Linked DNA regions of Homo sapiens. The protein of the gene in region 3 purifies or fractionates together with the protein of the main gene of each other region. This does not show direct contact. Each region holds a gene or a part of one and is shown on either strand. Other genes may lie near its edges.

Region 1 (3,500 bases), on a different chromosome or scaffold from region 3:
GAAGAGAGAGTGGGTTAGGTGGTGGGAAATGTTGGGGGGCAGAGCAAATACCATGTGAGACAGCCACGGGAAAGGGGCCTTCCAGAAAAAAGAAGGAAGGGGTGGAGCTGTGTGATGGAGTGAGGGTCCAGGGGTCATGGGTTGGTAGGGAATGTCATGAGGTGAGGCTGGAGACACAGAATGAACAAAAATCGTGCAGGGCCTTATAAGCCATATTAAGCATTTTGGATGTTATCCTAAGATTCCTGTTAAGCAGGGTAGTGATGTGATCAGATTTGCATTTAAAATTTGCATTTTAAGAGGTTTTCTAGGTTACTTATGTTTTCAGGCCACTTTTAATTTCTGGAAGATCTAACTGCCACCTGCATATTTAGGGAGGGGTGTGTGTGTGTGTTTAAAAAACAGCTTTATTGGGATATAATTCACATACCATGAAATTTATCCTTTTAAAGAGTACAATTCATTGATTTTTAGTATAATCACAGAATTATGCAGCCATCACCAGTATTAATTTTGGAACATTTCATCACCCCAAAAAGAAACCTCATGTCCATTAGCAGCCACTCCACATTGTCCCAGCTCCCCAGCCCCTGGCAGCCACAATCTACTATCTACTTTCTATCTCTGGATTTGCATATTCAAGACATTTCACGTAAGTGGAATTACACAGTATGTGGTCTTTTGTGACTGACTTATTTCACTTAGCATAATGTTGTCAAGGTTCATCCATGCTGGAGCATGAAGCAGTGCTTCATTCCTTTGTATGGCAGAACATGCTATTATTTTATATGAATCTATTATCACATCTTGCTTATCCACCATTTGATGGACATTTGACTTGTTTGCAGTTTCTGACATTGCTGCTGTGAAATCGACATTTGTGTCATGCAAATGGTCAGAAAGGACATACGTTTCACCTTTCTTTTTAAAGAGAAGAGCTTTGCTCTATTTTTGTTCTGTAGCACATTCTGTTCAATAAGCAGTTTCTTTCCAGAAAGACCTGTGTGACAGTAAGGGTTCAACCACACGTGTTAATGTTGATGAATTGAGAAAAATGCTATTAAAAACTTGAGTTTTCCTCTTGGTGCTTGAAAGCACTATTTGCAGCTAATGGTGCCAGTTCCTGCTTGGTTCTAGAAGTCAGAATCTATTGTTGTTCTAGTCCATTTACAAGTGGATGCCAAGGAATTCTTAGCTCCTCTGTTTCACTTGAATGACTTCTCATCCACATTAATAAAATGTACCTGATTGCCTATTATCAAGGTGATGGCTTTCATCTTGATTAGCCATTTCAGAGAATAAAAAATAAATAAAAGTCAGAGTGGCCTCCATATTACAGAGTTCAGAACGTGCACCAGGAGGTCATGAGTATAATAAAAAACGGTTTATGACCTGCACTGGAGCATAACTTCAGGCACAATAAGTATTAAGAATTAGAAAATCATTAAGCAAGAACATTTTCAGACCAAGGGAAAAAATGTAGGCAGTGAATGTAAAAAGCTTCATAGCTTGTCATATAGAGTAGGAAAAATAAAAACAGTTTTATATATAAAGTCCAAGCAGTTTTGATAACTGTGATGAAATGGCAAATTAGCACAAATTAGTCCACAACTGGAAAGGTTTGGTTTACCCAGTTTAGGGAACAGAGTTTGTAAAATGATTAATCTCTGAAATTTAACGTGCCTGTTTGTTTGTGTTGATTTGTAACTAGTTCCTTTTAACGTTAGCATCAGGAATGTTACTTAAGATTTCACTGAACATTAGTAAGCTTAGGATGACTGTAAAGCTGGTCTACCAATTGTGCAAGCACTTATGGGACGTCTACTGCTGATAAAAGGTCGTATTTGTCAAGGGGAAGCAAATTACTCTTGGCCAATTGACTGGGAAAAATTTGTGTTTCATGGCAGATAATGGGTTAATAATAATTGATATACTTTGTAGTTTCATCACTGTACTTAAGGGGCTTATTCTTATTTCTCAGGCTATGTTAGAGGAATCTCACTGCTATTATTATTGTAGGATTCTCACTACGTGCTTTGTATTATGTTGAGGACTTGCCTGCATTATCTTGTTTAATCCTCATCGTACCCTGCCAGGATATATAGACCCCAGTGACATCTCTAGTCTACAAATGAATGGAGGCTGAGAGATTTAAGTGATTTGTCTGAGCTCACATAGGAAGGGCAGAGCCGGGACTTGATTGTGGGGCTGACGCTAAAGCTGATGTACAGTCTGCTTCCCCACCTCTCTGGTATGCTGACTCATTTATTATGAAAGATTAAATTTCATCTACAGGTGAAGCTTTTTGAATTTTGTTCTAGAATGTGGATTCTGGGTAGAGCCAATTCCTGGAAATCTGGTTCTTAGCATGTTACTATTTGGTCTTCTCGTTGATTGCAGTATGACCTTAAGTAACTTCTTAATCTTTCTTGAGCACATGTTGCCTCTGTAAGAATGTCATATGACCTATTTGTAAAGCATACCTCAAGATTTCTAAAGATCTCTTTTACATAGTCCACAAGAGGAAAGGCAACTTAATCTGGTCACTGGAGTGTTAAATTCTGTTGCTTACTTTGCTATTTGGGTTTGTTTGGTGATTTTGAGTTAAGGCATTGGATTATGTGACTGTTTTCTTGTCTAAAAACAAGGATGCTGCTAGCTGTTTGCCTTCTGATGTTGAATCTCAGTGAAAGAGAGGCCAGCAGAGCTTTCTAAATCTCGGGTACAGTGACTGAAGCACTGGGCTGGGAGTCCGAGTGCCTGAGCTGTGGTCTGGTTCTGCTGCCTACTAAGCTGAATGACCCAAAAGCCTCTCCACCCTTCCCTCACCCACTCTACCTACCTTGAGGGCTGTAAGAGAATTAAATGAGAAGTCATGTCTGAAGAAGTACTTTATATTTTATAGGTTATATGAGTATACGAAATGATTATTCTCAGAGTATCATGAGATGGTAATATTTGGAAATCTTAGATGTGATTTAGTCTTCTGGTTTTTTGTTTTTGGATTTCTTAGGTGACACTTCGGTTGTGTGTTTTAATTTTTGTTCTTTTTTTTTTTTTTTTTTTAGTGGTATGTGTGCAACAGAGAGAAATTATGCGAATCACTCCAGGCTGTCTTTGTTCAGAGTTACCTTGATCAAGGAACACAGATCTTCTTAAACAACAGCATTGAGAAATCGGGCTGGCTATTTATCCAATTATATCATTCTTTTGTGTCATCTGTTTTTAGCCTGTTTATGTCTAGAACATCTATCAATGGGTAAGTGAATCTTGGACATTTATTTTTTTCTTTATCCTTAGGTTTACAAAAGGAAAAACACAAAAAGAAAAGTTATCTTGTTCAGCATGTTGACTACCTGAGCTACAATACTTCTACTAGTCAGAACCTTGGCAGTTGGTCCAGCGTTCTATCTTTCTGTGGTTCTGCCCTTTAAATTCACCATAACGTGACAGCCTCATTAGTATGTTTATTCATAGCGGGAGTTACTTACGGTAGTGCT
Region 2 (3,500 bases), on a different chromosome or scaffold from region 3:
TCACGCCATTGCACTCCAGCCTGGGCAACAAGAGCAAAACTCCATCTTAAAAAAAAAAAAAAAAGAACCATTGCTGTCCTCATTTCACAAATGAGTAAACTAAAGTTCAGAAAGGTTAAGTGACTTCCAAAAGGTCACACATCTAGGAAGTACCTGAGCTCGAATTTGAACCAGATCTGTCTGAATTCATACACCATGCTCACAGCCACCATCCTGTGCCAAGACCCATCACTGAACATTTCTGGAGGTCAGTTTCCCTATCTACCAAATGGGGAAAAATAAGCCCAGTGCATTCCTACCAGATTACTGTGAGATGAAGACAGTGACAAAATTGAAAAGCCAAAGACTGTGTGCAAAGGGGAGGTACTATTATTAATCAGAGAAGTGCTGCTTTATTGGGTACAATTTAAAGTGTCTGCATAAGGCTCTTCATTCTGGTGAATATTTCATGAGGAATGGAAAGAGCACACTACTGCATTTATTCTCTGCTCAGGCCTCCTGAATACATCCTTCCTTTGGCAGGTACACCTTGACTGTCCCTGGAGACAGCCCCTGTGCTCGAGTTGGCCACAGCTGTTCATATTTACCCCCAGTTGGTAATGCCAAGAGAGGGAAGGTCTTCATTGTTGGGGGAGCAAATCCAAACAGAAGCTTCTCAGACGTGCACACCATGGATCTGGGTAAGATCAGCAGCTGCAGAGTACATGCCCTATGGCCAGAGAACAGGGCTGTGTGCTGCTAGCCATGAGCAGGGCATTCCTAAAAACACCAGCAGGGTTTTCCTATAAGAAAACATGGCCAGGACCAGGTGTGGTGGCTCACGCCTCTAATCCCAGCACTTTGGGAGGCCAAGGCAGGTGGATCACCTGAGGTTAGAGTTCGAGACCAGCCTGACCAATATGATGAAACCCTGTCTCTACTAAAAATACAAAAAAATTAGCCGGGTGTGGTAGTGGGCACCTGTAGTCCCAGCTACTCGGGAGGCTGAGACAGGAGAATTACTTTGAACTGGGGAGATGGAAGTTAAAGTAAGCCAGGATCATGCCACTGTACTCCGGCCTGGGTGACAGAGCAAGACTCTGTCTCAAAAAAAAAGAAAAAAGAAAAAGTCAGCATCACTGACAGATCCCTCAGGTTTCTTAGTAGGCCCCTGGCACACATTCATCTGACCAGTACCTCCTTGTTTAGCGGGAGAGAACCCTTATGGAGCCCTGGTTGTCCAGCCATTTATTCATCAAATATTTCTGTAGGATACATTGATGACTACCACCACTCATTCTATTCACATATCCAATATATCACTAAGCCCTACATATCTCTTTTCTTTGTTTTTTGTTTTTGTTTTTTTGAGATGGAGTTTCGCTCTTATTGCCCAGGCTGGAGTGCAATGGCGCGATCTTCACTCATTGCAACCTCTGCCTCCCAGGTTCAAGAGATTCTCCTGCCTCAGCCTCCCCAAGTACTTGGGATTACAGGCATGTGCCACCATGCCCAGCTAATTTTTTTTTTTTTTAGACGGAGTCCCACTCTGTTGCCAAGGCTGGAGTGCAGTGGCACGACCTCAGCTGACCGCAACCTGTGCCTTCCAGGTTCAAGCGATTCTCCTGCCTCAGCCTCCTGAGAAGCTGGGATTACAGGCGCCCACCACTACACCCAGCTAATCTTTTGTATTTTTAGTAGAGACTGAGTTTCACCATGTTGGCCAGGATGGTCTCGAACTCCAGACCTCATGATTCACCCTTCTTGGCCTCCCAAAGTGCTGGGATTACAGGTATGAGCCACCACGCCCAGCCTACATATCTCTTATCTTTATCCATGTCTGTCCATTTCCACTACTACTACTGTAGTCCAAGCCACTGTTATCTCTCAACTAGACTTACAAGAGCCTCCTCACCAGCCTCCCTGCTTCCAAGTTTACCCCCTATACAGTGCATTTTCTCTACCTAGCCAGCGAATATCATCTAAAATACAAATCTAACCATGTCACTCCCTATTTCAGACTTTTCTCAACCTCCCTTTTTTTTTTTTTTTTTTGAGACCAAGTCTTGCTCTGTTGCCCAGGCTGGAGTGCAGTGGTGCTGCAAACTCGGCTTACTGCAACCTCTGCCTCCTGGGTTCAAGCAATTCTCCTGCCTCAGCCTCCTAAATAGCTGGGATTACAGGTGTGCGCCACCATGCCCTGCTAATTTTTGTATTTTTAGTAGAGATGGGGTTTCACGATGTTGATCAGGCTGGTCTTCAAATCCTGACCTGGTGATCCTCCCGCCTCATCCTCCCAAAGTGCTGGGATTATGCATGTGAGTCACCACACCAGCCTTTTTTTTTTGAGGCAGCGTGTCGCTCTGTCACCCAGGCTGGAGTGCAGTGGCACAATCTTGGCTCACTGCAACCTCTGCCTACTGGGTTCAAGCGATTCTCCTGCCTCAGCCTCCTGAATAGCTGGGATTACAGGCGCGTGCCACCAGCCTGGCTAATTTTTGTATTTTTAGTAGAGATGGGGGTTTCACCATGTTGGCCAGGCTGGTCTCAAACTTCTGACCTCAAGTGATCTGCTTGCATCAGTCTCCCAAAGTGCTGGGATTACAGGCGTGAGCCACCGAGCCCGGCCCCAACCTCATTTCTTGGCTCTCTCCAACCCACATTTGCTGCACTGGATATCCTTCAGTTCCTTGAACACAGCTTGAGCTCTCTGGCCTCCATGCCTTTGCACACACAGATCCCTCTGCTAGGAATGTTTTTCCCTTTTCTTATCATCTGGCTTCTCTATATCTTTCAGATTTCAGATTAAATGTCACTTCTACCAGGAACCTTTCCTGTTACCTCTGGACTCGTTCAGGCACTACATGACTCTGTATGTCCGTAGTCTCATGTGCTCTTCCATCCTGTCTGCCTTCACAGCCCTATCACATGTGATTGTTTCTTGTCCGTCTGCCCCACAAGAACATAAGCTCCTCAGAAACAGATAGCATATTTTCCTCATCATTGTATCCCAGACACTACCACAGGGCTTAGTACAGAGTGGGTGCTCTATAAGTATTTAAATGAATGAATGAATGAACCTGCTAATAAGAAACAATTGGATCTGGGCGCAGTGGCTCACGCCTCTAATCCCAGCACTTTGGGAGGCTGAGGCGGGCGGATCGCTAGGTCAAGAGATCGAGACCATCCTGGCTAACACGGTGAAACCCTGTCTCTACTAAAAATACAAAAAATTAGCCAGGCGTGGTGGCGGGCACCTATAGTCCCAGCTACTCGGGGAGGCTGAGGCAGGAGAATGGCGTGAATCCGGGAGGCGGAGCTTGCAGTGAGTGGAGATCGTGCCACTGCACTCCAGCCTGGGTGACAGAGCAAGTCTCCGTCTCAAAAAAAAAAAAAAAAAAAAAGGAAATGATTATTAGCTGGGCGTGGTGACTCACGCCTGTAATCCCAGCACTTTGGGAGGCCGAGGCAGGCAAATCACAAGGTCAGGAGATCGAGACCATCCTGGCCAACATGGTGAA
Region 3 (4,145 bases):
TGCCTAGTTGCTGAAGGCATTCGCTTTTGTGATTCCCCTGATACTAGGAAAAATTGCATAGCATTTTATGTATACTCTGCCCTTTCAGGCATAATTCAGTTAGCTTTTTTTTTTTTTTTGAGATGGAGTCTCGCTCTGTCGCCCGCGCTAGTGCAGTGGCACGATCTTGGCTCACTGCAAGCTCCGTTTCCCGGGTTCACGCCATTCTCCTGCCTCAGCCTCCCGAGTAGCTGGGACTACAGGCGCCCACCACCACGCCTGGCTAATTCTTTGCATTTTCAGTAGAGACGGGGTTTCACCGTGTTAGCCAGGATGGTCTCGATCTCCTGACCTCGTGATTTGCCCGCCTCAGCCTCCCAAAGTGCTAGGATTACAGGCGTAAGCCACCGCGCCTGGCCTTAGGAGTTCTTAACCTAGGTCAATAGACTCCAGTTAAGACGTCTGTGAACTTGGGGGATAATTTATATTTTTAACTCCAACTGAAATTTAGCATTTCAGTCAGGGCTATGGAAAACAAACCACAGTAACATTATCAAAACCTATATGAAATCATGGTATTTTCATACCATGTTACAGTTGGTTACAAATATCTCAAAAAGCATTTATACTCATCACTAGCTTCAAAATTATGATAGTTACTACGCTTCCTCCTAGATCTTGTCATTTAATGTGTAAATAAAGGAGCACTATTACGTTACAGATTTGTTCTATTAATAGTTTAATAATTGTATTTAAACAACTGGTTTCCTTTGTAATTCTTGGTATTTTGTGCATTTGTAAACGATCTGAGAAGGGGGTCCAGAAACCTACCTAGACTGCTAAAGGGTCCATGGCACAAAAAAAGGTTGAGTTACTAGATCCAAAGGCCGTATGGACAAACAGTACAACCATTTCCTGAAATCAAATGCATTCTTTTCTGATGTTTCCCCAGTTAGACCCTATAAAAAGGTCGGCTGGATTGCAGACTTCTGGACTACGATTCCCAGAAGGTGGTGCGGCCCTGGGGCCTATCCAGAGTTAAGACAATAACTCCATCCAATAGTTGCTGTCCTCTCCTGACAGCCTACAATTCCCAACATGCATGGCGGCTGTTTATGCCTTGGGGACATTATGGACTCCGAGTTGTTGCTGGGATCTGTAGTTGCTTCGTATAACGTTGGGAGTTGGCTTCCTCTTATGATGTCTGAGGGTGGGCTCGAGGGAAAAAAAGCAAATGCAGCCATTAAATAAAAATGTCCCCTACATCCGCCCGTACCCGATCCGGATCCCGAGCGCGCGAGGGCGGAAGTGGTGGTGGCCCGCGCGGCCGGAAGTCCAGATCAGCTGATGGGGGAGGCGGCTCCGCAGCCGCCTAGAGGCCCCAGCCGCCGAGCGCTTCGTCCCGGCCCTAAGTCTCGGAGACTGGCCAAGATCACCGCTTGCACCGCGCTGTTGGGCGAGGCCCGGTCCCGTCTCTTTCCCAGGCCTGAGATTCTCGCCCGGCACGGCCGCCCTGAGCGCCCCGGCCACCCCCAGCCCCGGCTCGCCCCTCAGGCCCCGGGCCTCCCCTCAACCCCCGGCCGGCGGCCCAGGCCCCGGATCCGCGGGGGGGGACCCGGCCCCGGGGGGTGCGGGCCCCATGGAGCTGATGTTTGCAGAGTGGGAGGACGGAGAGCGCTTCTCATTCGAGGATTCGGACCGTTTTGAGGAGGATTCACTCTGTTCCTTCATCTCCGAGGCCGAGAGCCTCTGCCAGAACTGGCGGGGATGGCGCAAACAGTCAGCGGGGCCCAATTCCCCCACTGGCGGCGGTGGCGGAGGTGGCAGTGGCGGTACCAGAATGCGAGGTGAGAGTGAGCTGGGGGGAAGAGGAGCGGCAGGCCCTGCTTGGGCCTCGCTCGGGAGCTGTCCGGGACCAGGAGCTGTCCCCGACCAAGAGCTCTCTTCAACCAGGGGAAGAAAGGGGAGCTGTCCCCGGCCGGGAGCTGTCCCCGACTGGGAGCTGTCCCAAGCTTAGAACAGACTTCAGAACTCGCTTTTCCGGCCTTCCTGGGGTGGGCTGGCTTCTCCACACCTGTGTGTGTGTGGGTGTGTGTGTGTGTGTGTGCGCGCGCGCGCGTGCGCGCGCTGTGACAGGGAGATCCTGTGGACAGAAAGTAAATCTTTCGTCACTCCTTTGCCTTAGAGAGGGGATAAGGGAGAAGAATCTTGTCTTTGACTTGGGAATACTTAAGTGAGTTCAGTCTGAGGCATACCGGAAAGTAGAGGAAGAGAATGTGGGTAGGGGGCTGATTGTGAAGAAGTGACCACTTGTGGCTTGTCACCGCATTGCAAAGTGCATTGGGAGCTTCTTGCTTCGGGGTGATGATCTCTGATCCCAGAAGCACCAAGAAGGGATCCTACCCAGAGGAAAATAGAGGTGAACTGGCCTGCCAGAGAGTCCATAGTTCATAGGTTTAGATCATAGACTTTGCTTCTGGCCATGTCAAATATCTGTCAGAAGCCAAGGCTGGGACTTGCCTGCTGTGCCTTCCTCATGGCACAGTTTTTGTCCTGGTCCTCAGTGGAAGCTGGCTTTTTTCAGCAGTTGAGATGTTTAATTTGTGTGATTCTACTCAGGCCTTTCCAAGAGTCCTGTTTTCCAAACTGGCTTGTGGAGATTTCTGGTGCTCCTTTGGGACAGAGAGAAATTTACATATATCACTTTTTTTTTTTTTTTTTGAGACGGAGTTTTGCTCTTGTTGCCCAGGCTGGAGTGCAATGGCACGATCTCGGCTCACCGCAACCTCCGCCTCCCCAGTTCAAGCGATTCTCCTGCCTCAGCCTCCTGAGTAGCTGGGATTACAGGCATGTGTCACCATGCCCGGCTAATTTTTGTATTTTTAGTGGAGACCGGGTTTCTCCATGTTGGTCAGGCTGGTCTTGAACTCCCGACCTTAGGTGATCTGCGCGCCTCGGCCTCCCGAAGTGCTGGGATTACAGGCGTGAGCCACCGCTCCCGGCATATATATCACTTTTTAGGAGTGGCGGACTGGTGGCATTCAGCTTCAGTTGGAGAGAGGATATGGCCTGTGTACACACACACAAACACACACAGATCATAGGCAGTTTTACCGTGGGTCTTCTGTGGCCTTCTGGCTTCTTTCATATTTGAGTATGTGGGTGGTCTTGGGGCTTAGTGCTCCCTCACTTTGAGGGAAGTAACTGAAGTCATAGCGATGAAGATTGTTAACATATTGGTATCTTCCTGGTCAGGTTAAAATCTGGGAAAACATGCCATATTACCCCAGTCCCCCGACTTCAGTCACTGACTTGTAAAATAAAGGGGTTGGCCAGGTGCGGTGGCTCGTGCCTGTAATCCCAGTACTTTGGGAGGCCGAGTCGGGTGGATCACTTGTGGTCAGGAGTTTGAGACCAGCTTGGCCAACATGGTGAAACCCCATCTCTACTAAAAATACAAAAGATTCGCTGGGTGTGTTGGCACCCGCTTGTAATCTCAGCTACTTGGGAGGCTGAGGTGGGAGGTAAGTTTGAACCCAGGAGGGAGAGGTTGTGGTGAGCCAAGATGGCACCATTGCACTCCAGCCTGGGTGACAGAGTGAGACTTCATCTCAAAATAAATAAATAAAAATCAAAAAAATAAAATAAAGGGGTTAACTCTTCTAAAAAGGTTCTTTTTAATTCTATGATTTTCTGATCTATTAATGTGACTAGCAATTTTGTGAGATGTAGTTTGTCATGTTATCACTACTTTTTGGTTAAAACACTGTGGAAAACCTTGAGTGGTAACTTTATCTTAGTCCAGGTGATTCCAGTTGCAGCAGTAGCTAGGTGCCCTGCGATAACTCTCTCCCCTTGAGGGTTTCCAGTGTGGGAAGTTGTCATTTAGGCGCGCCAAAAGTGGTCTGGCCTCTCGTGCTTCTTGAGATCCCTTCCGGGCTCTGGTCTATCTTGTCTCCTTAGCTGGGGGCCTACAGTCATCTAGAGTAAAAGGGATGGTTAAAAAAAAAAAAAAAAGGCAATCGGAGACAAGAATGCCAGAGGAGAGACATTAACCATGTAATTTGAATTTAAAATGCTCATGGAATATGGGAAATTCAGTGCTGAGCCATGTGAGCAGGGTTACTTGCTAGGGTCCTGGAACGCACCTGTCTGGCCAGGAGTTT

The links. Proteins that work in one complex are often made in the same cells at the same time.
Region 1: the proteins of ZSWIM8 (region 3) and METTL9 purify together in Homo sapiens (co-immunoprecipitation; one large-scale study listed by IntAct). This does not show direct contact.
Region 2: the proteins of ZSWIM8 (region 3) and RABEPK purify together in Homo sapiens (co-immunoprecipitation; one large-scale study listed by IntAct). This does not show direct contact.

Annotation. Positions count from the first base shown.
Region 1 is NC_000016.10:21,609,577-21,613,076, forward strand, and holds part of METTL9 (protein-L-histidine N-pros-methyltransferase isoform 1 precursor), read left to right. Parts: intron 1-3,068; coding exon 3,069-3,259; intron 3,260-3,500. UniProt on the Homo sapiens protein: Protein-histidine N-methyltransferase that specifically catalyzes 1-methylhistidine (pros-methylhistidine) methylation of target proteins.
Region 2 is NC_000009.12:125,207,042-125,210,541, forward strand, and holds part of RABEPK (rab9 effector protein with kelch motifs), read left to right. Parts: intron 1-67; exon of another isoform or gene 68-247; intron 248-522; coding exon 523-680; intron 681-3,500. UniProt on the Homo sapiens protein: Rab9 effector required for endosome to trans-Golgi network (TGN) transport.
Region 3 is NC_000010.11:73,784,261-73,788,405, forward strand, and holds the start of ZSWIM8 (zinc finger SWIM domain-containing protein 8), read left to right. Parts: upstream 1-1,345; 5' UTR 1,346-1,618; coding exon 1,619-1,826; intron 1,827-4,145. UniProt on the Homo sapiens protein: Substrate recognition component of a SCF-like E3 ubiquitin-protein ligase complex that promotes target-directed microRNA degradation (TDMD), a process that mediates degradation of microRNAs (miRNAs).